Homo sapiens: one gene and its partners. The protein of the gene in region 3 interacts with the protein of the main gene of each other region in a biochemical or structural test. Each region holds a gene or a part of one and is shown on either strand. Other genes may lie near its edges. The genes, in order: PAOX, DAO, PEX5, IDH1, MLYCD, EPHX2 and HAO1.

The links.
Region 1: the proteins of PEX5 (region 3) and PAOX interact in a test that uses a peptide from one of them, tested with the Homo sapiens proteins (one large-scale study listed by BioGRID).
Region 2: the proteins of PEX5 (region 3) and DAO interact in a test that uses a peptide from one of them, tested with the Homo sapiens proteins (one large-scale study listed by BioGRID).
Region 4: the proteins of PEX5 (region 3) and IDH1 interact in a test that uses a peptide from one of them, tested with the Homo sapiens proteins (one large-scale study listed by BioGRID).
Region 5: the proteins of PEX5 (region 3) and MLYCD interact in a test that uses a peptide from one of them, tested with the Homo sapiens proteins (one large-scale study listed by BioGRID).
Region 6: the proteins of PEX5 (region 3) and EPHX2 interact in a test that uses a peptide from one of them, tested with the Homo sapiens proteins (one large-scale study listed by BioGRID).
Region 7: the proteins of PEX5 (region 3) and HAO1 interact in a test that uses a peptide from one of them, tested with the Homo sapiens proteins (one large-scale study listed by BioGRID).

Annotation. Positions count from the first base shown.
Region 1 is NC_000010.11:133,382,262-133,385,761, reverse strand, and holds part of PAOX (peroxisomal N(1)-acetyl-spermine/spermidine oxidase), read right to left. Parts: intron 2,911-3,500; exon of another isoform or gene 2,823-2,910; intron 1,803-2,822; coding exon 1,550-1,802; intron 1-1,549. UniProt on the Homo sapiens protein: Flavoenzyme which catalyzes the oxidation of N(1)-acetylspermine to spermidine and is thus involved in the polyamine back-conversion. Can also oxidize N(1)-acetylspermidine to putrescine.
Region 2 is NC_000012.12:108,890,092-108,893,591, reverse strand, and holds part of DAO (D-amino-acid oxidase), read right to left. Parts: intron 3,385-3,500; coding exon 3,319-3,384; intron 611-3,318; coding exon 556-610; intron 128-555; exon of another isoform or gene 1-127. UniProt on the Homo sapiens protein: Catalyzes the oxidative deamination of D-amino acids with broad substrate specificity. Required to catabolize D-amino acids synthesized endogenously, of gastrointestinal bacterial origin or obtained from the diet, and to use these as nutrients.
Region 3 is NC_000012.12:7,196,186-7,199,685, reverse strand, and holds part of PEX5 (peroxisomal biogenesis factor 5), read right to left. Parts: intron 676-3,500; coding exon 573-675; intron 1-572.
Region 4 is NC_000002.12:208,241,572-208,245,071, forward strand, and holds part of IDH1 (isocitrate dehydrogenase [NADP] cytoplasmic), read right to left. Parts: intron 2,034-3,500; coding exon 1,856-2,033; intron 575-1,855; coding exon 423-574; intron 1-422. UniProt on the Homo sapiens protein: Catalyzes the NADP(+)-dependent oxidative decarboxylation of isocitrate (D-threo-isocitrate) to 2-ketoglutarate (2-oxoglutarate), which is required by other enzymes such as the phytanoyl-CoA dioxygenase.
Region 5 is NC_000016.10:83,902,115-83,905,614, reverse strand, and holds part of MLYCD (malonyl-CoA decarboxylase, mitochondrial), read right to left. Parts: intron 1-3,500. UniProt on the Homo sapiens protein: Catalyzes the conversion of malonyl-CoA to acetyl-CoA.
Region 6 is NC_000008.11:27,497,643-27,501,142, reverse strand, and holds part of EPHX2 (bifunctional epoxide hydrolase 2), read right to left. Parts: intron 218-3,500; coding exon 133-217; intron 1-132. UniProt on the Homo sapiens protein: Bifunctional enzyme. The C-terminal domain has epoxide hydrolase activity and acts on epoxides (alkene oxides, oxiranes) and arene oxides. Plays a role in xenobiotic metabolism by degrading potentially toxic epoxides.
Region 7 is NC_000020.11:7,912,959-7,916,458, forward strand, and holds part of HAO1 (2-Hydroxyacid oxidase 1), read right to left. Parts: intron 1,462-3,500; coding exon 1,206-1,461; intron 1-1,205. UniProt on the Homo sapiens protein: Broad substrate specificity (S)-2-hydroxy-acid oxidase that preferentially oxidizes glycolate.

The DNA of each region.
Region 1 (3,500 bases), on a different chromosome or scaffold from region 3:
AATACAAACAATTAGCCGGGCGTGGTGGTGGGTGCCTGTAGTTCCAGCTACTCAGGAGGCTGAGGCAGGAGAATGGCGTGAACCCAGGAGGTGGGGCTTGCAGTGAGCCAAGATTGCACCACTGCACTCCAGTCTGGGGGACAGAGCGAGACTCCATCTCAAAAACAAAAAAATATTTTATTTATCATGGGGTAAATTTACAGATGTGACTCACATAAACAAAAGCTCTTTGAGATCCCCAACCCTTTGCAGGTATATAAAAGGATGGGACAGCTACCACCCCGTGCCACAGACAGGGTCCCACCAAAGCACTCAGGGTCCCACTGATGTCCTAAGCAAGAGAGCACAGGAGGTGGGGCTGGGCCTGGAGCAGGTGGCTCTACACACAGTCACCCACCCGGCTGCCCACCAGCAACCCAGGCCTATCTCAACACCTGGAATGCCAGTTTTCTTTCTTTTTTTTTTTAGACAGAGTTTTGCTCTTGTTGCCAAGGCTGGAGTGCAGTGGCACAATCTCAGCTCACTGCAACCTCTGCCTCCCAGGTTCAAGCGATTGTCCTGCCTCAGCCTCCTGAGTAGCTGTGATTACAGGTGCGTGCCACCACACCGGCTAATTTTTTGTATTTTTAGTAGAGACGGGGTTTCATCATGTTGGCCAGGCTGGTCTCGAACTCCTGACCTCAGGTGATCCACCCGCCTCAGCCTCCCAAAGTGCAGGGATTACAGACATGAGCCACCGCGCCTGGCCGAAATGCCAGTTTTCTCTTCAGTGTGAAGGAGACACACAGGCTTCCCCCGTCACAGGTGCAGGGCTGGTCTGCAGCCTGCAGCCTCCTGCTCCCAGTGGATGGCAACTATGAACCATCTGGCAGGCATGCCCTACATCCCACCCCATCCCGGGTCTTTCAGAACAAGAACTTGGTGCCCCCTCCTGCGGCATCTCTCAGTGGAAACGTGGAATTATTTCTGCCATCTGACTATATCAGGCTGTCTTTGTGTTTTAATCTTGCTGGAAAAGTCAGTCCCTCCATCCCCACATCACTCATGGGATTAACTCCTGAATCGCCACGTGGTCTAGATATGCTGTTTCTAAGAGGGCCAGCCCATACAAGGGAGCCCTTCCTCTGTGGGTCTCCCATTCCATTACTTCTCGGAATGTTTCCTTCAATTATTTCATCCCATTTAAGTATTGTCTCCCCACGTATGGGCAGATGGTGTTTCAAAGTTCTTCTGTATCTACAAGCCCCAGCTCCCTGCAACATTCCAGTAAACACGTTCCCACTGACTGAAGACTGAGCCTGCCTGCAAGTCTACAAACACATTCTGGGCCCTGAGGGACGCTGACAACCCGCATACAGCAGGGCGCCATCTGTCCCCGCAGGGGTCAGGCCCAGGTGCAGCCAGCACCTGGTGGGGGGGCGCTCATGGGAACCCTACCCATTAAACCCCCTAGAAATACCCTGCAGTGAACAGACACACTGCTGCGTCCTCCATCAGATGAAGGCCTATGAGCCAGCCACTCGCAGAACTTCTCAGGGAGCAAACGTACGCAAAGGCAGGCAGGACCACAAAGCCAATGAGCTTCCGGAACCAGGCGTCCTGTAGCTCAGGGGCAGCATCCTCCAGGGGCGACGTGTCCTCCCACACCAGCTGGATCAGCTGGCAGTCTGGCTCCCAGAAGGGCTCCTCAAACTCCAGGAAGATTTTGTTGTTGGTCCCAAAGCCTATCTTCCTGATTGCTTCTGCCTTCTCAGCCGGCAGGGGAGGGTCAAAGAAGGTGTCCAAATGTTCCCTAAGAAAACCTGGAATTCAGAATTGGACTCTTCTTACATCACATAAAGCCCTCCACGGAAGTCCTGTCTGTCCAGACCTTGGATCCAGCAATTTCCCCTGCTGGTGTTTATCCTACAGACACATTCACACAAGCAGTTTTACTTTTTTGTCCTTGTTTTTGAGATAGGGTCTTGCTCTGTTGCCCAGGCTAGAGTGCATGCAGCACCATGATCAGGGCTCACTGCAGCCTTGACCTCCCTGGCTCAGTCCTCCCACTTTGGCCTCCCAAACTGCTGGGATTACAGGCGTGAGCCTCTGTTCCCCACCTTTCACACAAGTGTTTTTTGTTTTTTTGTTTTTTGGGTTTTCTTTTTTTTTTTTTTTTTGAGATGGATTCTCACTCTGTCGCCCAAGCTGGAATGCAACGATGCCATCTTGGCTCACTGCAACCTCCACCTCCCAGGTTCTAGTGATTCTCCTGCCTCAGCTTCCCAAATAGCTGGGATTACAGGCACCCACGACCAGGCCCAGCTAATTTTTCTATTTTTAGTAGAGATGGGGTCTTGCCATGTTGGTTAGGCTGGTCTTGAACTCGTGACCTCAGGTGATCTACCTGCCTCAGCCTCCCGAAGTGCTGGGATTACAGGCGTGAGCCACCGTGCCTGGCCAACACAAGTGTTTTTAAGTGCACATGTAAAACTGCATGAAATAGAAAAAGTGAAGGCCACCTAAATTTCCATCTATGCTTATGAAATAATGACAAGAAAACACTGCGTGGCAAATTAACCCGCTCCTTTTTTTTTGAGACGGAGTTTCGCTCTGGTCTCCCAGGCTGGAGTGCAATGGCACAATCTCGGCTCACTGCAACCTCTGCCTCCTGGGTTCAAGCAATTCTCCAGCCTCAGCCTCCTGAGTAGCTGGGACTACAGGCACCCGACGGCTAATTTTTGTGAACTGGCTCCTTATAAACAAAATGCTCACAGTTGTAGCAATGTATCTACTGACAATGTCCCCGTGATCAGCACTTAGCAGGGCCTGCAAGCACTTACTCCAAACGTGAATGAACAAAGCCACTGGAGGGAAACAAAAAAGACCGCTGTAGATCTATGTGTGCTGATTTGGAAACACTGACAAGTTCTATTAAGAAAAAAACAAAAAACAAAAACAGGCAAACTGAGCAGCAGATTTTTGGTTTTTTTTTTTTTCTGAGACAGAGTCTCACTCTGTCACCCAGGCTGGAGTGCAATGACACCATCTCGGCTCACTGTGACCTCTGCCTCCCCCGTTCAAGCGATTCTCCTGCCTCAGCCTCCCAAGTAGCTGGAATTACAGGTGCCTGCCACCATGCCCAGCTAATTTTTGGATTTTTAGTAGAGACAGGGTTTCATCATGTTGACCAGGCTGGTCTCGAACTCCTGACCTCAGGTGATCCGCCTGCCTCAGCTTCCCAAAGGGCTGGGATTACAAGCGTGAGCCACCGTGCCCAGCCAGCAGCAGATGTTCATGTGTGGACGACGACTGCATCTCTGGGAAACAGCAATGGGGTCTCAGTGCTCATCCCTGCCCCGGGGAGGGCAAAGCCACCCCTTGGAGACAGGAGTTAGGGCTGCGGAGGCTCCTGCTTTTCATCACACACCTGTCAATCACACCTAGATTTCCAAGTGAGTGCTGGCAATCGCTAGCTTTGTGAACTTGGGCAATTAAGTGACTTCTCTCTACTTGCCTAG
Region 2 (3,500 bases), about 100 Mb from region 3:
CAGGTTAGTCTTCATGACATAGCACTAGTAGCTACATGTACGGAGCGCCTTCCTTGTGCCAAGCAGGGTTTTAGATGCTGGGATTGAATGAAGCCATACAGTAAAGCTCTTTTTGCTGGTGCCTGGAGATGGTGGCTTTTCCTGTCATTATTATTGGTGGTGGTGCTTCTTTAGAGGTGAGTCAGCTGAGGGCCTGGACTTTGCAGAAAGACCAACACAGATGTCGGTAGGGCTAGGAAGCAACCAAGTTCTGACCTTGGAGTGCAGCTGACACTGAGAAAATGCGGCCAGCTCTCTAGACCCAAAACTCATTGAGTCTCAGATATAAATCAGCTCCTAATGGCCACCATGATCCCAGTGTTCCTTTGTTCCCACTACCAACATGAAGGCAGAGACTTCCTCCTTCAGAATACCTGAGTGCTTCTGGGGCAAGGGTCTGAGGCAGGCCTGTGGGGACCCTAGGAGCCTGAGAAGGGAGCCCCCGACTCAGCAGCAAGAAGCAGAGGCCTCCCCTCTTCTCCCTGCCCCATCCACCGCATCAGCCCTGCAACTCACCTCCTCAAAAGACTCCACTTTCCGCTGGAAGAACTTCACTCCCCTCTCAGTTAACCTGGGATGATCAAACACATCAAAAAGCCCAGTATTCAGCTATCTGCCCCATCCCACCAAGAGGGTGGCACAGGGACCTTTCCCAAACAACCTTCTGCGGACGTTAGTTGCACAGGATGCTGCTTGAGAAGATGGCTGTGTCATCAAATCAGCTCATGAGCACCTACTGGACTGGTGGTCCACAAAATCTCCTTTGAGAAACCAGAGATGGTCCAAGCCCCTTGTTGGGCAGATGGAGTGGGGGAAGGGCCTTGCTGAAGGCCATAGAGTGAGTCAATGATGGAGTTGGAACTCAAACCCAGGCCTCTTAGCCCCCAGCACTTCCTATGACCACCACATTGCTTTGTAACAGCAAAGGCGATGAGATTCAGAGTAGAGAAGGGGAGAGTTGTACCAGTGCCAAATTCCCCTTTGTCAGAAGCCGGGCATGAGGAGGGAGGTGGGCTGAGGACATCCACCCTCCTTTTAAACATCCCATAGGAAAAACATCTATCACGATTAGAAATACACTAGAAACAGCGAGGCGCGGTGGCTCACGCCTGTAATCCCAGTACTTTGGGAGGCCGAGGTGGGCGGATCACGAGGTCAGGAGATTGAGACCATCCTGGCTAAGACGGTGAAACCCCGTCTCTACTAACAATACAAAAAAAAAATTAGCCAGACGTGGTGGCAGGCGCCTGTATTCCAAGCTACTCGGGAGGCTGAGGCAGGAGAAAGGCATGAACCCAGGAGGCGGAGCTTGCAGTGAGCCGAGATTGCGCCACTGCTCTCCAGCCTGGGTGACAGAGCAAGACTCTGTCTCAAAAAAAAAAAAAAAAAAAAAGAAGAAAGAAAGAAATACACTAGAAACATCCAAAGAACAGGAAATAAGCCAAAAAGAAGGTGAAGCATACCCTTGGAACTATCTCATTTCCATCATTTCCTCAAGATAGAAAAACATCTTGAGGGCATGTTTTTCCTGGAAAAGACTGGACAAGGGTCATGTGTCCCCAGGTTAGGAGAAATAGCCATGTCTTAGTACAATGATTCCCAAACATGGCTGATAATTAGAATCGCCAGGAAGCTTCTTAAAATGCAAATTTTTGCTAGGCCTGTTTGCTCACGCCTGTAATCCCAGCACTTTGGGAGGCTGAGGCAGGAAGATTGCTTGAGCCCAGGGGTTTGAGACCAGCCTGGGCAACATAGTGAGACCCTATCTCTACAAAAATATTTAAAAATTAGATAGGCATTGTGGCACATGCATGTGGTCCCAGCTACTTTGGAGGCTGAGGTGGGAGCATCACTTGAGCCCAGGAAGTTGAGGCTGCTGTGAGTTGTGTTCATACCACTACATCCCACTCCAGCCTGGGTGACAAAGTAAGATTTTGTCTCAAAAAAATGAAAAAAAGCAAATTTATGAACCTTATCCCAGAAGTTCTAATTCAGCAGGTATAGAGTGGGGTCCTAAAATCTACATTTAAAAAAAATCTTCTGAGGTCATCTGATAAAAGCCACTATATATTCCATATTTTTTTAATCTTTTTTTTTTTTTTTGAGACAGGGTCTCGCCCTGTCACCCAGGCTGGAGTGCAGTGGCATGATCACAGCTCACTGCAGCCTCTCCTTCCCGGGATAAAGCCATCCTCCCACCTCAGCCTCCTAAGTAGCTGTGACTACAGGCATGCACCATTATACCTGGCTGATTTTTGAATTTTTCTGTAGAGACAGGGTTTTGCCATGTTGCCCAGGCTGGTCTTGAACTCCTGGGCTCAAGTGATCTGCCCACCTCGGCCTCTCAATGTGCTAGGATTACAGGTATGAACCACCATGCCTGGCCTAAAAATCTTTAAAAAACAGTAATATATAAAAAATGTATGGAATCAGGCTGGGCGTGGTGGCTGACACCTGTAATCCCAGCATTTTGGGAGGCCGAGGCGGGCAGATTACGAGGTCAGGAGATTGAGACCATCCTGGCTAACATGGTGAAAACCCATCTCTACTAAAAATACAAAAAATTAGCCAGGTGTGGTGGTGGCAGGCACCTGTAGTCGCAGCTACTCAGGAGGCTGAGGCAGGAGAATGACATGAACCCAGGAGGCAGAGCTTGCAGTGAGCCAAGATCGCACCACTGCACTCCAGCCTGGGTGACAGAGCGAGACTCCATCTCACACACACAAAAAAGGTATGGAATCTCCCTTAATATGAATGTATGTGAATATAAATACCAATGTATCTCTCAAGTGAGTGTTTGCTAATTTAGAACACTGCAAGATTCCTATTAACATGAGGAACAAGTCAAAGCCATCCACTATCATCTGTATGAGTAACATTGTTCTAGAGGTATTGGCCAAAGCAGTTAGAGAAGAAAAAAAAAGAGAGAGGGAGATAAAAATAAAAGGCAGCTTATGTTTTGCAGATGATGTAAATGTATCTGGAAACCTTAAAAGAATACATCTAAAACTATTACACAAACATTAGGGATTTGAAAGAGGTTGTTAATGGACATCATGTGTAAACAGCTGCCCAGGTGGTTCTGATGCTCAGCTAGGCTCAGGATCCATTGCCTCTGTGCCCAGCGGTGATCAGGACCAAGGATAGCTCCCACACCAGGCCTAAGGGTATTCTTCAAACCTGGGGGTTAGTCCATGCTGAGGGAAGCCCACGAACCATCTTCCACTACAACTTGGTCTCTGGGAGGTACCTCCCTCAAAGTGAAGCTTAAAATCTCACCTTTCAGTCAGCCACTGTAGATAGTTCTTTCCCTCCAGAATTAGGCTTGTGTGGAACCAGCCATAGCTAGAGTCACAGTAAGCAAAAGGTGGAAATAAAGGTAAAAATCAGAGCTATATTTGAAGGCTGTGAAATGGAGGTGGGAGCAATGTTGTTCTGTGGGCCCAAAGGGTAGTGCCAGG
Region 3 (3,500 bases):
ATGGCGGTTTTGTGGAATAGAAAAGGGGGAAAGGTGGGGAAAAGATTGAGAAATCCGATGGTTGCTGTGTCTGTGTAGAAAGAAGTAGACATGGGAGACTTTTCATTTTGTTCTGTACTAAGAAAAATTCTTCTGCCTTGGGATCCTGTTGATCTATGACCTTACCCCCAACCCTGTGCTCTCTGAAACATGTGCTGTGTTCACTCAGGGTTAAATGGATTAAGGGCGGTGCAAGATGTGCTTTGTTAAACAGATGCTTGAAGGCAGCATGCTCTTTAAGAGTCATCACCACTCCCTAATCTCAAGTACCCAGGGACACAAACACTGCGGAAGGCCGCAGGGTCCTCTGCCTAGGAAAACCAGAGACCTTTGTTCACTTGCTTATGTGCTGACCTTCCCTCCACTATTGTCCTATGACCCTGCCAAATCCCCCTCTGCAAGAAACACCCAAGAATGATAAAAAAAAAAAAAAAAAAGAATAAAGTAAGTTGGTTCGAGAACGTGGATGGAGGAGGCTGGGAAAACTGTCCATACTCCTTTCACGGGATTCGGAAAGAGGTATCTGAACTCACCAGCGATCGGTGGCTGTTCCCTCAGGTTCTCCCAGCCACAGCTTCTCCTCTGATTGCTCCAAATATTCCTCAGCCCAGCGGGCAGGGGACACAGACAAGGGGTCTGCAAGGAGCAGAGAAGTGGGGAAATCACACAGGTTCATTCAGTGTGGGATCAAGGAAAGGGAAAGAGATGCCCATATTCAACTGACCCTCTTAGCCACACCAAAGCAGACAAAACTCTGCTGACTCCCTCAGAAACCCCTGGTCAAAAGAATATAGTACTAAATTTTCAACATCCTCAATATCCAACCCATTCTCAAGGAGCCTGGGGCAGAAATTTACTGAGAGTTGGGAACGGGAGATCAAATAAGGAATCTCAGGAAAGGATTAAGAACCAAACTCTTTTTCTTGAAGTGCAAGATATTTCAATAAGAAATAGGAAGCGGAAGGGCTTTCACTTTCCTCAGAAGTACAGCAGGGAGCCAGTAAGGAGTGAAGGGAGCACAGAAGGGCTCCTGTTCCTTAACCAAGGCACTGGTCTGTTCTCCCTCTACCCAGAGTTCACACAATCCCGGCCAAAGGAGCCTTATTTCATTGTAATTTGCCTACCAAGAGAATCAGAGAAGTGGAATGCTAGGCTAGAATTAAAGACACATAGGTCTGCTCTTCCCTATGGATGTTTGGTGGGTTTTTTCATTTTTTAATTGAAATGTAATATACAAATATGAAACCATATAATGTCTACCAAACTTAAGTGTACAGCTAAATTAACTTCCACATTTGATACACTCACATAACCACCACCCGGATCAAGATACAGAACGTTTACAGTTCCCTCACAGGCTCCCTCAGTCTCCCAGCCCCCAGAAGTAAACACTATTCTGACTTTTCTCACTTTTGATTATCTTTGAGTAGCTATGTTTTTTCAGTCTAATTTTAGAAACTGTCTCAGAAGCTCTAGTGACAAAGGGGACTGCTGCAACATCAGAATTAACCTATCAAGGCAACAAACTCAATGAGGGTGCTGAACTGTTTTTCATCCTCCAGGACTTTGCCCTTTACTATCCTGTGGCCAGAAAAAAAAAACAAGGAGACTGACTGCGGGCACTAAAGAACACAAGGAAACAAAGAGAAGGCACAAGCCTACGGTGTTCTTTCCTTCTGCCCTGTGTCCAGAACTAATCTTACTAGTTAGTCTGCCACCACCTTCCCCTGCTATTCCCCACTCCTGGCCCATGACAAGGACAGTTCCCAAGGGGGAACTCCACTCTCTTGTTGAGAACCTACTAACTCCAATTTGCATTAAAGAGGGACATTTGGGCAGGGGTGTGAAAATATTAGCTGATACTAGCAGTCTTTGTCCCCAGTTTCAAGATCTGACCACCCTTGCTTTTACTACCCCTTCGGTATTAAAGTACAAAAACTTCTACTCCATTTTAACTGAAACTTTGCCTGAATAATGTCAACAAAGTAGTCTCAAAATCTGAGCATGAAATGTCAAAATGTGAAAAACAAAGATCAAGACTCTCAGAATACACCTAATTATAAATAATAAGTAATTACTACTTATTATATTATATATAACATATATAATTACATTATATATAACATATAATTATTACATTATATATAACATATATAATTATTATATTATATATAACATATATAATTATTACATTATATATAACATAATTACATTGTATATGACATATAATTACATTGTATATGACATATATATAATTATTACATTGTATATGACATATATAATTATTACATTGTATATGACATATATAATTATTACATTGTATATGACATATGATTACATTATATATGACATATATAATTATTACATTATATATGACATATATAATTATTACATATGACATATAATTATTACATATGACATATATAATTACATTATATATGACATATATAATTACATTATATATGACATATATAATTACATTATATATGACATATATAATTATTACATTATATATGACATATATTATTACATTATATGACATATATAATTACATTATATGTGACATATATAATTACATTATATGTGACATATATAATTACATTATATGTGACATATATAATTACATTATATGTGACATATATAATTATTACATTATATGTGACATATATAATTATTACATTATATGTGACATATAATTATTACATTATATGTGACATATAATTATTACATTATATGTGACATATATAATTATTACATTATATGTGACATATATAATTATTACATTATATGTGACATATATAATTATTACATTATATGTGACATATATAATTATTACATTATGTGACATATATAATTATTACATTATATGTGACATATATAATTATTACATTATATGTGACATATATAATTATTACATTATATGTGACATATATAATTATTACATTATATGTGACATATATAATTATTACATTATATGTGACATATATAATTATTACATTATATGTGACATATATAATTATTACATTATATGTGACATATATAATTATTACATTATGTGACATATATAATTATTACATTATATGTGACATATATAATTATTACATTATATGTGACATATATAATTATTACATTATATGTGACATATATAATTATTACATTATATATGATGTAATTATTACATTATATATGACACATAATTATTACATTATATATGGCACATATAATTATTACATTATATATGACACATATATGTATGACACATAATTATTACATTATATATGTCATATATAATTAAATTATATATGACATATATAAATTATGACATATATAATTAAATTATATATGACATATAATTAAATTATATATGACATATATAAATTATGACATATATAATTAAATATGACATATAATTAAATTATATATGACATATATAATTATTACATAACATATATTACATTATA
Region 4 (3,500 bases), on a different chromosome or scaffold from region 3:
AGAGGGACATGAGTAGGTCCTGCTGCCCAATAAATGAGCTTTGCAGGCACCAAAGCTTGGTTATGACATGATCAAGCTCCTCACTTTATCCCTCCTTGCCTGAGTGCCCTGGTTTTTTACATTTTCACCAAAGGACAAGGAGGGCAGGGAAAGGGAGTGATTTTCAGATCAGGTAGGCTTTAAAACTTCAAGGAGTGACACTGGAGCCAGGAGTGTCAATCCACTAATTTACTTCCCATGTGGTCTTGAGTAAATCATTTCTCTAGTCTGAGCTTAATTTCCTTAGCTGTCAGGTAAGACGGTGGACCTGGAGGTTTAACATTCCAAGATTTTACAACAAAGGACTACAAAACTCCCCTTCCCAAATTAGAGAACTACCCTGGAATGACCCTGTTCCTACAGGCCAGGCTCCACCTCTGTACCTTGGGCCACAGAGTCCGACTGCACGTCACCATCATAGTTTTTACAGGCCCAGATGAAGCCTCCCTCTGATTTCATAGCTTGGGCCACCATGTCGTCGATGAGCCTATGCTCATACCAGATCTTTTGAGCTTCAAACTGGGACTTGTACTGCCTGGGAAACAAAAGGTAAAAGAGAATAATAATAAAGAAAATTGATTTTGTTAGGGATATCATCTGCTTGTCCCAAACAGAAGACCGGACACACAAGAAGCAGCATATTTTAGTAGAAGTAGCAGAAACTCAGGAATCTGACAGACATTGGCTCAAATCCTAGCCCAATCATTTTCTAACTGTAAAACTCAATTTGACTATCTGTAGGAACAATTTTACCCACCTTGCAGGGAAGCCGTGAGAATTAAGTGAGACAGTAGAGTATCCCAATGACTACTTCACTTTTCAGTTTTCATTATACTATAGATCAGATTCTTGAGATTCAGCTTATTTTTAAAATACATTTTTGAAAAGACTGTTCTACTTCTTGGTGTCATTCAGGAAACTAAAATATATTCCAGACAGTTTCTGGGCTTGGTATAGATGGGCAGCAGGAGGAGGAATCAAAATGCCTCAGGAACATTTTGGCCTGAACACTTGCACCTAAAGGGAGTTATGCCAATCTTAAATATTAACACATGCTCACCTCCTGTGCTGTGGAAGCCAGTGTTGTTATAAACTTAGACTTAAGTTCAAATGACTCCACTAAAACAGAATTTTAAATTCTTTTTTTTCTTTTCTTTTCTTTTTTTTTTTTTGAGACGGAGTCTCGCTCTGTCGCCCAGGCTGCAGTGCAGTGGCGTGATTTCGGCTCACTGCAACCTCCGCCTCCCGGGTTCACGCCATTCTCCTGCCTCAGCCTCCCCAGTAACTGGGACTAGAGGCGCCCGCCACCACGCCCGGCTAATTTTTGGTATTTTTAGTAGAGTCAGGGTTTCACCGTGTTAGCCAGGATGGTCTCGATCTCCTGACCTCGTGATCCGCCCGCCTCGGCCTCCCAAAGTGCTGGGATTACAGGCATGAGCCACCGTGCCTGGCCAACAGAATTTTAAATTCTAACAATGGGCTTCAGAAAGAATGGAAATGGGTCTGACTTAGAAACTCACACATGAAAAATTAGAACTTATCACTAACAGCGTACGTTTATTTAAACATTAAAGAACCTGGCTCTGAAAACAATTCATGTGGGGACCTTATTTAAGAACATGTTTATCTTATAAAAGCAAGTCAGAGTGGTTTTGTTTCACTCCTGCTAAACCTCAGTTTTGCCCTTATCTTTAAGAGACAGTGATGATTTTCACTCAATTTACCCAGAATCATAGGGATAGGGAGATACATACTCTATATGCAAATGTCAGCTTACTTGAGAATAAAGAAAAAGTTAAAAAAGAACTATAGTTACTTGTCATATATCTCCTGAAAGATGTCTTTAAAACGCCCATCATATTTCTTCAGAATAGTGTTTTTGGTGCTCAGATACAAAGGCCAACCCTTAGACAGAGCCATTTGGAAGGAACTGTGTGCAAAATCTTCAATTGACTTATCTTGATTATACATCCCCATGGCAACACCACCACCTTCTGTAGAGGAGAAGCCAGTGAGAGGAAAAAAGGGAGAAGAATAAATGTAATGTAGTTGTAATAAGGCTAAAATCACCCACCACAACCAAATGACCTACTTCTCAGCTCTCACATCTGAGACTAGATTTCAGAAGTCCCAGACAGGTTTCCAACAAATTTCTGAGGCACATAATGAGAGAAAAGCCAGTTCTAGATAAGGACATTCTAACTTGTTTTGGAAGGACAGCAGAAATGAAAAAACATACAGTCTTTAAAATCCTGAAGATGCAGAAATGCCAAAAACTGATATGAACCAGAAATACATTTAAGAAAAGGCAAATAATTTTGAAACTTCTTTTACATACTGATATGGTTTGGATATTTGTCCCTTCCAAATCTCATGTTGAAATGTGATTCCCAGTGTTGGAGGTGGGGCCCAGTGGGAGGAGATTGGAACATGGGGTTGGATCCCTTATGAATGGCTTAGGACCATCCCCTTTGGTGATTACGTGAGTTCTCGCTCAGTTAATTCACTTGAAATCTGGTTGTTTAAGAGTCTGGGACCTCCCCCTTCTCTTTCTCTTGTTCCCGCTCTTGCCATGTGATACACCTATTGTCTGTTTGCCTTCTGCCAAGATTGGAAGCTTCCTGAGGCCCTCACCAGGAACAGGTGTTGGAGCCAGGCTTGTACAGCCTGCAGAACCATGAGCCAATTAAACCTCTTTTCTTTATAACTTACGCAGCCTCAGGTATTTCTTTATAGCAACGCAAGAATGGACAAACACCCTACCTTTACAATTCCCAACATCTATTTTAAACTTTAGGGGTGTACTCAATCCTCAGTTATTGAGAAAAACTTAAATTTCAAATACTGAATGAAAATTCTTATAATCTCCTGGAGGATACTGAGCACTCCTACTGTAGTTGGTAGAAATAAGTAGAAATAATTATGCTACATGTAATCACTGTGTTTTACAACTATTATTGAACTTTGTTATTACTTAAAGATAGAACTTGAATCCATGCCAATGCTCAGGGTTAACTTGGGTTCAGGGTGAAAGGTGCTGAAGCCTGCAGAACCAGATTCCAACAGATATTATTTGGAAGAGGCAAGAAAAACAAAAGGTAGGTGAGTGTTGGGTATTTTTGTTTGTGTGAGTGCTTTCAACAACTTCAATAGTGAAGGAAAAGGGCCCACTAATTATTTCAACAACTTTTGGGTGGGATTTGCCATCAAAGGTAGCAGGGTAGCTGGGAAAGAAAAGGCAAAAAGCAAATGTTCTACTTTTTCACAGGATAAATACCCAGAAGGGCAAGAAGAAAACTTCAGCAAATATATAAGGAAACCTCTTCCAGATACAAGAGCCCTACCAGAGCAAAGGGCAGGATTATATGCTGGGTGATTTGAGAATATTAATATTTAATGTATATAATTCATGCACAGCAGATTTCTGCCAACCTTCTCTCTGTGCTTTAAGATAAATGCAT
Region 5 (3,500 bases), on a different chromosome or scaffold from region 3:
GAAGGCGGTGTGATGGCTGGCATTGGAGCAGCCATCCTGGGCCACGACGTGGCTTTGGAGATGAAGGTTTTTCTCGGCAGAGCAACAAGATTCAAGTCTGAATCCACCAAGAGCACCAAAGAGCAGAATCAGCTCTGGGCTGCCCACCTCTAGACTTTCACATGACAGACAAACTTCTGTCATATTCAAATCACTGTTATTTTGGGTCTTTGTTACTCATAAACTACATAGTAACAGATCCACTGAACATTATTATTAAATAACAGTAAACATCTCAGGACATCTGATACAAGAATGACCTTCTGAATCTCTCTACAAGGGTCATAAAGAACACAATGGGCAACACCTATAAGAATGGCTTTACAACAGCTAGAATTTTTTTTTTTTTTTGAGAGATGGAGTCTTCCTCTGTCACCCAGGCTGGAGTGCAGTGGTGCAACCCTGGCTCACTGCAACCTCTGCTCCCTAGGTTCAAGCGATTCTCCTGTCTCAGCTTCCAAATTTTATAAAACAATTTTACATTTTAATCCCTGTTAAAGGGTGAAAGGACTCAGAACTTTGACGCCTGAGAAAGAGTTGCAGGTTTTGGGGTGATGGCTCAGAGAAGTTTTCGGAAGGAGATGAGGTCTCCTTTTACATGTTTAAGCACTAGGGCACGAAAGAGGCCACAAATTTGTTCTGTGTGACCCCATGGGGGCCGGGGAAGGAAATCTAGGACTGACTGGTGGAAGTCATGGGCAGTCAGATGTGGACTCAATTTAGTGTAAAGAGGAACTTTTGAATAGCTGGAGCTGTCCACAGAGGTCATCCTGGGAGACGGTGACCCTCAGCACTGGAAGCCATCAAGCACAGGTGGACAGAACTCAACGGAGCTGTTTGAAAACGGATTTAAGCATTAGATAGACAGCTGGACCAGAAGATCTTTGCAATTCCTTTTAACTCTACATTCCATGACTCAATCTCCTTTACTTGGTTGTAAACGCCATAAAAGCAGGATCCACTTCTGATTCATTTTTATAGTTCGCAAAGCATTCACTAATAGATTGATATCAAATGAAAAAGATGGAAAAATGGAATGAATCGTGATTAGGAAGTAGCAAGAGGGCAGGATGAAAGAGATCATTTGCTAGGTGACACAGAATGGCCCTTTGTAAAACTGTACTTTCTGCATTTGACTATAGCAATTCTTAATCTTCCTGGGATCCTCTCACACTCTTACGTGCTAAAAACCATAGGCCCTGCCCCCAAAACACTGCAAATACATTAGTAAAATTGTGCATACGTTTTCCTGGGGTACATGGACTCCTCTGATACTTATCTATGGACCATCCCAGGGGCCAGGAGGGCTTCTGTACCCCAGTTTAGGAACGGATGAGCTGAGCTCTGCGTAAGAGGTACTGGTATCTGTCTTACATTCGTGATATGAAAAAAGCTGGAAATACCTAGTTTTACTATCAATTTAATATTAATTATGAAAGAAATGGTTTGGCTGATGAAAGCTCCTCCCCTACAGATCTCTTCATTCTATTTTGGGCTCCTGACAGCTACAAAATGTGACACTGGTACACGAGAACTGGGAATCCAGGCTAAAGGTTAGAAGTCTCCGTTGCTCAGTTCTAACACCGGCAGCAGCTGTTCAGGCTGGGATGAGCCACAGCACGCGGCAACGTTGCCAGGATACAAACACCACCAGGGAAAGAGGCCTCTGCAACTGTACGTGCGTTAATTCAGGCACCATTTATCACCAATACAAGACTGAGAAACACAACTGCGGGGAATATCCTGGTGATGCTAAGGGCAGCGACAGTTCTCAGTGGATTCTGCTGGAGTGTTTCTTATTTTTTTTTTCAGAGGCAGGTCTTGCTCTGTTGCCTAGGCTGCACTTGAACTTCCGGGCTCAGCTGAACCTCCCAAGTAGCAGGGACTACAGGTGCGTGCCACTGCACCCGGCTCTGTGTATTGTGTATTGTTAATTCCATTGACTTGTATGACACCGTTTAGACCAGCCCACTTTTCCTTTTAAAAGAGAAACTGGTTCCCTCTCTTTTGAAGCTCTATCAAGATCTGCTTATTTTGGTATGTGAAGAAAAGTTACCTTCCCTTGTCCAGAAGCCCTGCTCTGGGGAAGGGAGGATAAAGTCATGGATGAGGGTAGCACTGCAGAGGCTGAGAAATTTGGGGAAAATTCCCACTCACGTAAGCTGACACTCCGCAGGTGTACACTTGATGCTATGGGTATACTGTCCTATCTAAAAATAAGTATTATTTAGCATAGGTAAGCACAGAATTTACTAGAACCAACAAGGAGTACTCAATTAACTAAAAGGCAGAGGGTACGCAGGTGTCTAGCATGGCCGGGTGGCTGTGGCAGTGGGAACCAGGTCCCTTCTCTAGTTTCTGTGCCTCTGTTAAGGTTGGAGCACCTCTCATTCCACCCTAACAGCAAGGTCCAAACTGCCCATGAGGAACCCTTTCCATGAATTAAAGGCCAACCTTCCTCGAGTGCCCACAAATCACTGAACCTCGCTCAGACCTTCCCCTCTACTGGGGATTCGACTCGGTTTCACTGGGATTTCACCTCTAAGAAACTGAAGTCATCAACCAACTGGGCCTCTGGAGAAAAACAAAAAGCCTATAAACCACCATCCCCCAGACACATCACATCCTCATACCCACACCTACCATGCAACCACAGGGACACACATACCTCCAAACTCCTCTACATTCAGGAGGCCACAAATCCAGGCAGTAACAAGCCTCCAAACTCACTCAGATCAGAGGAAAAGAACATTTTAAAAAGTAAGAACACAGCCAGGCACAGTGGTTCACACCTGTAATTCCAGCACTTTGGAAGGCCAAGGCGGGCGGATCATCTGAGGTCAGGAGTTCCAGACCAGCCTGGCCAACATAGCAAAACCCCATCTCTCCTAAAAATACAAAAATTAGCCAGATGTGTTGGCAAGCACCTGTATTCCCAGCTACTCAGGAGGCTGAGGTGGGAGAATGGCTTGAACCTGGGAGGCGAAGGTTGCAATGAGCAGAGATTGTGCTGCTGCACTCCAGCCTGGGCAACAGAGCAAGACTCTGTCTCAAAAAAAAAAAAAAAAAAATCAGATTAAAAAAATAGATCAGATCATACCACATTAAGTGATTCTGGTGAGAGGTTACAATATCAGATCCCAGTTGATAGTTTATAGGTACAGAACAATCTAATTCTATTCTAAGACTGATTTAAGCGACAGGGATTTTAAAAAAATTACATCTGGGCTCACACCTATCTATAATCCCAGCACTTGGGATTGGAGGATTGCTTGCTTGAGGCCAGGAGTTCAAGACCAGCCTGGGAAACGTAACAAGAAAAAACATAAACATGAACAAAAAAATAAACACAAACAAAAAACCGTAAACAACAAAACAAAAAACCATATATATATATATATATATATATATATATATATACGCACGCACACACACACACACACATATACACATACATATAT
Region 6 (3,500 bases), on a different chromosome or scaffold from region 3:
ACCATTAAAACAACATTTGTCTTCACAGAAAAGGTGGGTGTTTTCTATTATGGTGGGCCCCAAGTTCGGGGAGATGGGCACACAGGCAGAGAACGTTCATCCAAAGGGCTCTGTGTGGTGATGTCCCCTCACCTGGGAAAGTGTGATCTCTCCTTTCATAAGCCGGGTAGTGGCACCCTCTGGTCCCCCTTTCTGGAAAGCATCATTCAGAAGTCCTCTGGAAAACACAAAGAACATCAGGAACATTCTGTGGATTTTGTCATGGCAGCACATGGAAACAGACACTGTTCATATTCATTGAGAAGCAGCCACTAGAAAGGGATACTGCCAGGAACTGGAAAATGCAAACGCAGTTCAAATTGGGATCTTTGCGCGCAAGGAGCCATCCAGCTGAGGACATGAGACCATACAGTAAATCACAGTATGTTCCACAGAGAAGCTGCCCATGGGAAACCACCTAATAGCAGCTTCACCCAGAGGCGCTTCCTACTTTACTATATAACGGTCAGAACCGAGAGTGGGCACGCGGCCATTACTGTCCTCGTGTGCACCAGGCATGGTCTCAAAGAACTTTTTCATGAGTTCACCTTCTTCAAAAAGAATGGAATATGTTTTTTGTGGTTTCGATTCTGCCTCTCTAGTTTCTATTTTATCTTAATGTCATCTTCTAACCTTTAAAAAGTTTCCTGTATTAGTCTGTTCTCACACTGCTATAAAGACGTACCTCAGATCGGGTAATTTATAAAGAAAAGAGATTTAATTGGCTCATGGTTCTGCAGGCTGTAGAGGAAGCATAGCTGGGGAGGCCTCAGGGAACTCACAATCATGGCGGAGGGTGAAGGGGAAGCAAGGCACGTGTTACATGGTTGGAGCAGGAGGAAGAGAGAGAAGAGGTAAGTGCTACACACTTTTATAAACAACTAGATCTCATGAGAACTCACTCAACATCACGAGAACAGCAAGGAGGAAATCCACCCCCATGATCCAATCACCTCCCACCAACCCCCTCCTCCAACATTAGGGATTACAACTGGACAGGAGATTTGGGTGGGGACACAAATTCAAACCATATCACTGTGTTAAGGCTGGGTTGTATACCCCCATCCCAAATACATACATTGAAGTTCTAACTTCCAATACCTCAGGATGTGACTGTATTTGGAGAGTGGGTCTTTAAGAGGTAATTGAGTTAAATAAGATCATACAGGTGGGCTCTAATCCAACAATAGGACTGGTGCCCTTATAAGGCGATTAGGACACAGACACACACAGAGAGTCAACCATGTGAGGACACAGGGAGAACACTGTTAACAAGCCAAGGAGAGAGGCCTCAGAAGGAACCAACCCTGCTGACATCTTGATCTTGGACTTCCAGCCTCCAGAGCTGTGAGAGAAAACATTTCCATTGTTGCCATCCAGTCTCTGTTTGCTGTTACAGCAGCCTCAGTAAATAAATACACTGAGTAACAGAACAAATGTATTTATGTGTACGAATGCATTTGTTCTATTACTCAGGTCTGGAAAGTAATTTTAACTGGCTTGCCAATCCCAGATGAATTCCAGTTGAAGTGGCAAGCCAGTTAAAATTACCAGCCCTGAGTAACAGAACAAATATCCCCATCCTGGGAGCTTTATTTCTGATAATAGTCAAGTATACCTTTTATCAGACACCCTCTTGCAGGTAACAGTGGTCAGCTCTGGACCAACTATATGGAGACATATACCTAATATCTGTGGCCTTGCTCAACTTTTCAATGTCAGCAATGGTTTTCCCATACCTTTGCCAACAGTTGTTGGTTTTTTAAACAGCTTTGTTAAGGTATAATTACTGCTATGGTTTGAACGTTTGTCTCCTCTGAAGCTCATGTTGAAATTTAATCCCCATTGTGGCATTAAATTAAAATTGAGAGGTGGGCCTTTAAGAAGTGATTGGGTCATGAGGGCTCCACCTTCATGGATGGATTAATTCATCCATAGGCTAATGGGTTAATGAGTTAATGGGTTATCATGGGATTGGGACTAGTGGCTTTATAAGAAGTGGAAGTGAGGCCTGAGCTAGCACACTGAGCCCCCTCACCATATGATGCCCTGTGCTACCTTGAGACTCTGCAGAGAGTCCCTACCAGCAAAAATGCCCTCACCAGATGCAACCCCTCAACCTTGGAATTATCAGCCTCCATAACTGCAAGAAATAAATTCCTTTTCTTTATAAATTACCCAGTTTCAGATATCCTGTTGTAAGCAACAGAAAATGGACTAAGACAATTACATAGCATTAAATTCATGTAGTATGACAATTCAATGATTTGCAGTAAATTTACAGTTGTGTAAGCATCACCACATTCCAATTTTAGAACATTTCCACCTCCTCCAAAAGACTCCTGGTCCCTTTCAGTATCTGCTCCTCAGTATTAAGAAGCAATGCAATATTCAACTTAACAATCCTATTGAGCATCTTAGGTATGTGAGGCATTGTGCTATGTGCTGTGATGCAAAAGTGGAAAAATATGATGCTATTCATAGGAAGCTCACAGAAGAACAAGGGAGGCAAGGTATAAACAAATAACTACAAGACACTAGGTGAGTGGGAAAACAGGGGAAAATTATTTCTTCTTCTTAGAGAATGGGAGATGATAAAAGAAGAGGAACTAGGGAAAGAATATAACTATACAGGAAGAAGATACCACTGAATCTATAAAACAAGGGCAGGTGGTCATTAAAAAAAAAAGCAACTTGATACAACAAGAACATTCTTGGTATTGGAAACATGAGCTTACCTCCATATCCTAGCCTAGCTCCAGCTCCTCTTCCTGTTAATGATAAGCCTCCTCTAATCTCCCCCACTCAGAAGGAAACAAGCAAAGAAATCTCCAAGGGACCATAAAACCCCCGGGCTATCGGTTATGTCCCCTTCAAGCTGTAGGGGGAGGGGAATTTGGCCCAACCTGGGTATATATCCCCTTCTCCCTCTCTGATTTAAAGCAGATCAAGGTAGACCTGGGGAAGTTTTCAGATGATACTGATAGGTATATAGATGTCCTACAGGGTCTAGGGCAAACCTTCGACCTCACTTAGAGAGATGTCATGCTATTGTTAGATCAAACCCTGCCCTTTAATGAAAAGAATGCGGCTTTAGCTGCAGCCTGAGAGTTTGGTATCTTAGTCAAGTAAATGGTATCTTAGTCAAGTAAATGACAGAATGACAGCCAAAGAAAGGGACAAATCCCTACCGGTCAACAAGCCGTCCCCAGTATGGATCTCCACTGGGACCTAGACTCAGATCATGGGGACTGGAGTCGCAAACATCCGTTGACCTGTCTTCCAGAAGGACTAAGGAGAATTAGGAAAAAGCCCATGAATTATTCAATGATGTCCACCATAACTCAGGAAAAGGTAGAAAATCCTACTGCCTTCCTTGAGCGGCTACAGGAGGCCTTAAGAAAATATACTCCCCTGTCACCTGACTCCCTCGAGGGTCAATTGATTCTAAAAGATAAGTT
Region 7 (3,500 bases), on a different chromosome or scaffold from region 3:
TAAAACTATGTGAAACTTATACAAGACTGCAGCAACTTTCGTGGTGAGATTCACTCCACAGTCACTGAAATAGATATGAAATTCCAGGGGAATATTAATTTGATTTTGGATCTTTTCATTTTTTAATATTTTAGAAGAGTAAACACAGTATGTTTACATGTGGCTTCTTTCGTCTTTTATCTTTTTTCAATTTTGCTAGCCCTAGTTTTTTGTTTTTTTTTTTTTTTCCAAATACAATTCAAACATAGAGTAAGCAAGGGCCTCTGTGGCATGAGATCTGGGAACACAGGAAGACATTCCTCATCATCTTACATATTCTGATGGATGCTGTAGGAGTCCATCATAAAAATGTCCTCCATTAAAACTAAGATTTTGATCCCTTTTAAAATACTTATAGGCCTGAGGTACATTATACATTCATATGAAAAATCCAAGAGCACATTTTGGTGGAAACTGAAGGAAGGAAAATCTGATGGGGAAAAGAGGTGTATAGCTTAAGGAGGTTTGAGTCTTTCCCAGAGACTTCCACTCAGTTTCCAGCTTTGACTCAAGATGATTGTAATCCCAAAATACAACCAGGAAAGAGATAATAATTCACAGCTTGTGGACAGGGTGAATGAATGACCTGATGAAACCTTTATAGTTCAACATCAGATTATGTGATATATTGTTTTTGCTAAGATGAATGATTTGAGTGAATGAATCAATGAATCTTGACCCATGGATGAACCACAGTGAAAGGAATATTGCTGAAAGAAGAAGTAGACAGTGAGGGATCAAAGATGTGGCTTTTTTAAACCTTCATTATTTTCTTTCTTCAATCTTCTTAGCCTTAGCTGTCCCATGTACCATTAAAAATAAAAGGTAAAGGTGGCTCTTTGACTTTAACAAAGAAATAGGGCACCAGGATGATAATAATAAACTGCTGCTTGGGCAAAATTCAGTATCTTCCATCTGTATAGCAATTCATACTTCCCAAAGCCAAAGCCCTTAATGCACTCTGGTCTGAAAATTTATTGGACTTTTATAGAGGCCATTTCTGTTTCTATTGTGTATCTCAAAAAAAGTGATGTCTACAAAAGGGATGTGATTAGCTGAAGATTAACTAGATGTTTAGCAACGTTGCTATCAGTAGAACCCAGACCCTAACATTCCCAGTCAAGATCCCTTTCGCCTCAGCTCGGGGCCCACATGATCATGGTTACCTGAGTTGTGGCGGCAGTTTGAATCTGTTACGCACATCATCCAGACGGTTGCCCAGGTAAGGTGTGTCCACTGTCACAAATATGGCCTTGTAGCCCATCTTCTCTGCCTGCCGCACTAGCTTCTTGGTGACTTCTCGGTCCTTGTAGATATACAGTTGCAGCCAACGAAGTGCCTCAGGACCAGCTTCCGCCACTTCTTCAATTGAGGAGGTGGCCCAGGAACTCAACATCATGCCCGTTCCCAGGGACTGACAGGCTGAGAAAGAAAGGGGATGATCAAGATGGGCCTGGCATTGCTTACCCTCCCAAACCTTTGAATTGTAGTTGGATGAGTAAAGACATCTAGAAGGGCAATTTGGCAATATGAAGTCAAATCTCTTAAAGAGAGAAGAAAGTCTGGCCCATACCATCTATTTCCTGATTCTACCTCCTCTGATACAAATGGCTACTGGAGTTATTTCTGCTCAGTGTTTATTTTCCAATGATTAGAAATATACATTTCTTTCCACACTTTGTATATTGTTCCTGAAGAACAAAATAAATCCAATAGTCAAAGGTGTCTGTAAATACGGGCAAAAAATATTAAGAACCTGAACATCCAGCCTTAGGGGATTGGTTAAATTGTAGGTCATATATAAAATGAAATGAACACACCCATTAAAATTAATATTATTGCTGGGCACAGTGGCTCACGCCTGTAATCCCAGCACTTTGGGAGGCTGAGGCGGGTGGATCACCTGAGGTCAGGAGTTCGAGACCAGCCTGACCAACGTGGTGAAACCCCATCTCTACTAAAAAAACACAAAATTAACCGGGCGTGGTCATGGGCGCCTGTAGTCCCAGCTACTCAGGAGGCTGAGGCAGGAGAATCGCTTGAACCTAGGAGGAAGAGGTTGAAGTGAGCTGAGATTGCAGCATTGCGCTCTAGCCTGGGTGACAAGAGTGAAACTACATCTCAAAAAAAAATAATATTATTATGATAATCAATTTTCTGCATCAATATGCTAAACCATGGTGCCCAGATATTTGGTGAAACATGTCTGAATGCTGCTATGAAGGTGTTTTTTAGATGAGATTAACATTTTAATTAGTAGACTACAGGTAAAGCAGATTATCCCTCATAATGTGAGTGGGTCTTATCTAATCAGCTCAAGGCCTTAAAAATAAGTCTGTGAAGGAGAATAAGAAGAAGGGGAAGGAGAAGAAGAAGGGAAAGGGGAAGGAGAAGGGGAAGAGGAAGGGGAAGTAAGACTGCTAAGAAAAAGAAGAATTCTGCAAGGAGCCTGCCTTCAGACTGGAACTGCAACATCAACATTTCCCTGGTAGCTTGCCCACCTACTCTGCACATTTGAACTTGCAAGCTTCCACAAACACATGAGCCAATTCCTAAAAATGTCTATCTATGGATAGGTGTTTTAGAGATAAAGATAGAGATAGAGAGATAGACTTATGTATGTATCTATCTGTATCTATCGAGAGAGAAAAAGATGAGAAATCTCCAAGGGGGAGATCCTATTAATTCTGTTTCTCTGGAGAACTCTGGGTATTACAATTTTAAAATAATATAGACATAGAAAAATGTTTATGATATATAGATATATTAAGGAAAGAAAAAAGTTTACAAAATGACATGTATTACATGATATCAAATTTGTACAATTCTACTTATTGGTAGATGAATCTAAACAAACTACATGCTAATGATGGGTGGGAGAATTATGGGGTTAGTTTAATTTTTTTCTTCCTTTTTAATTTTAAAATTTTGTCTTTCAAAATTGTATTAAATATATAGTTTACCATTTATGTTGTCTTTTAAAATCTCATAAAATGTGTGTGCTAGATATCCCAAGTAGACACATCCTTTTGAGCAAGGTAGCAGTTACATTTTGGGGGGAAAGGTAGCAAGAAACGGGCAAATAAATGGAAAATTAAATAGAGTCATCTAACTAATAGTTTTAGAGGGTACTTGAGAGAACATGAGTGATAGGTAGGCTTTCTTCCAAAAATTGGTAGTAAAATTGGAGTAAAATTGGAGTCAGCCTTAGTGGAGGAGAAACTGATATAATGTTTATATGCAATATATAAAACAGTCAAATCTGTTATAAAGTATAAATATATTAGAAGTATAAATATATAAAAGTATATTATGTAAAACTCTATTCCTTCAAGTCATTTGACTCATCTGTGTGCCTACCATGCATCAAATGGGTATAAATATACTTGTCCAAATGACACTCACAGGATGTTGATAGGAATCCAGTGAGTTGCTGCTTATAAAGCTATAATGAGAGGTTA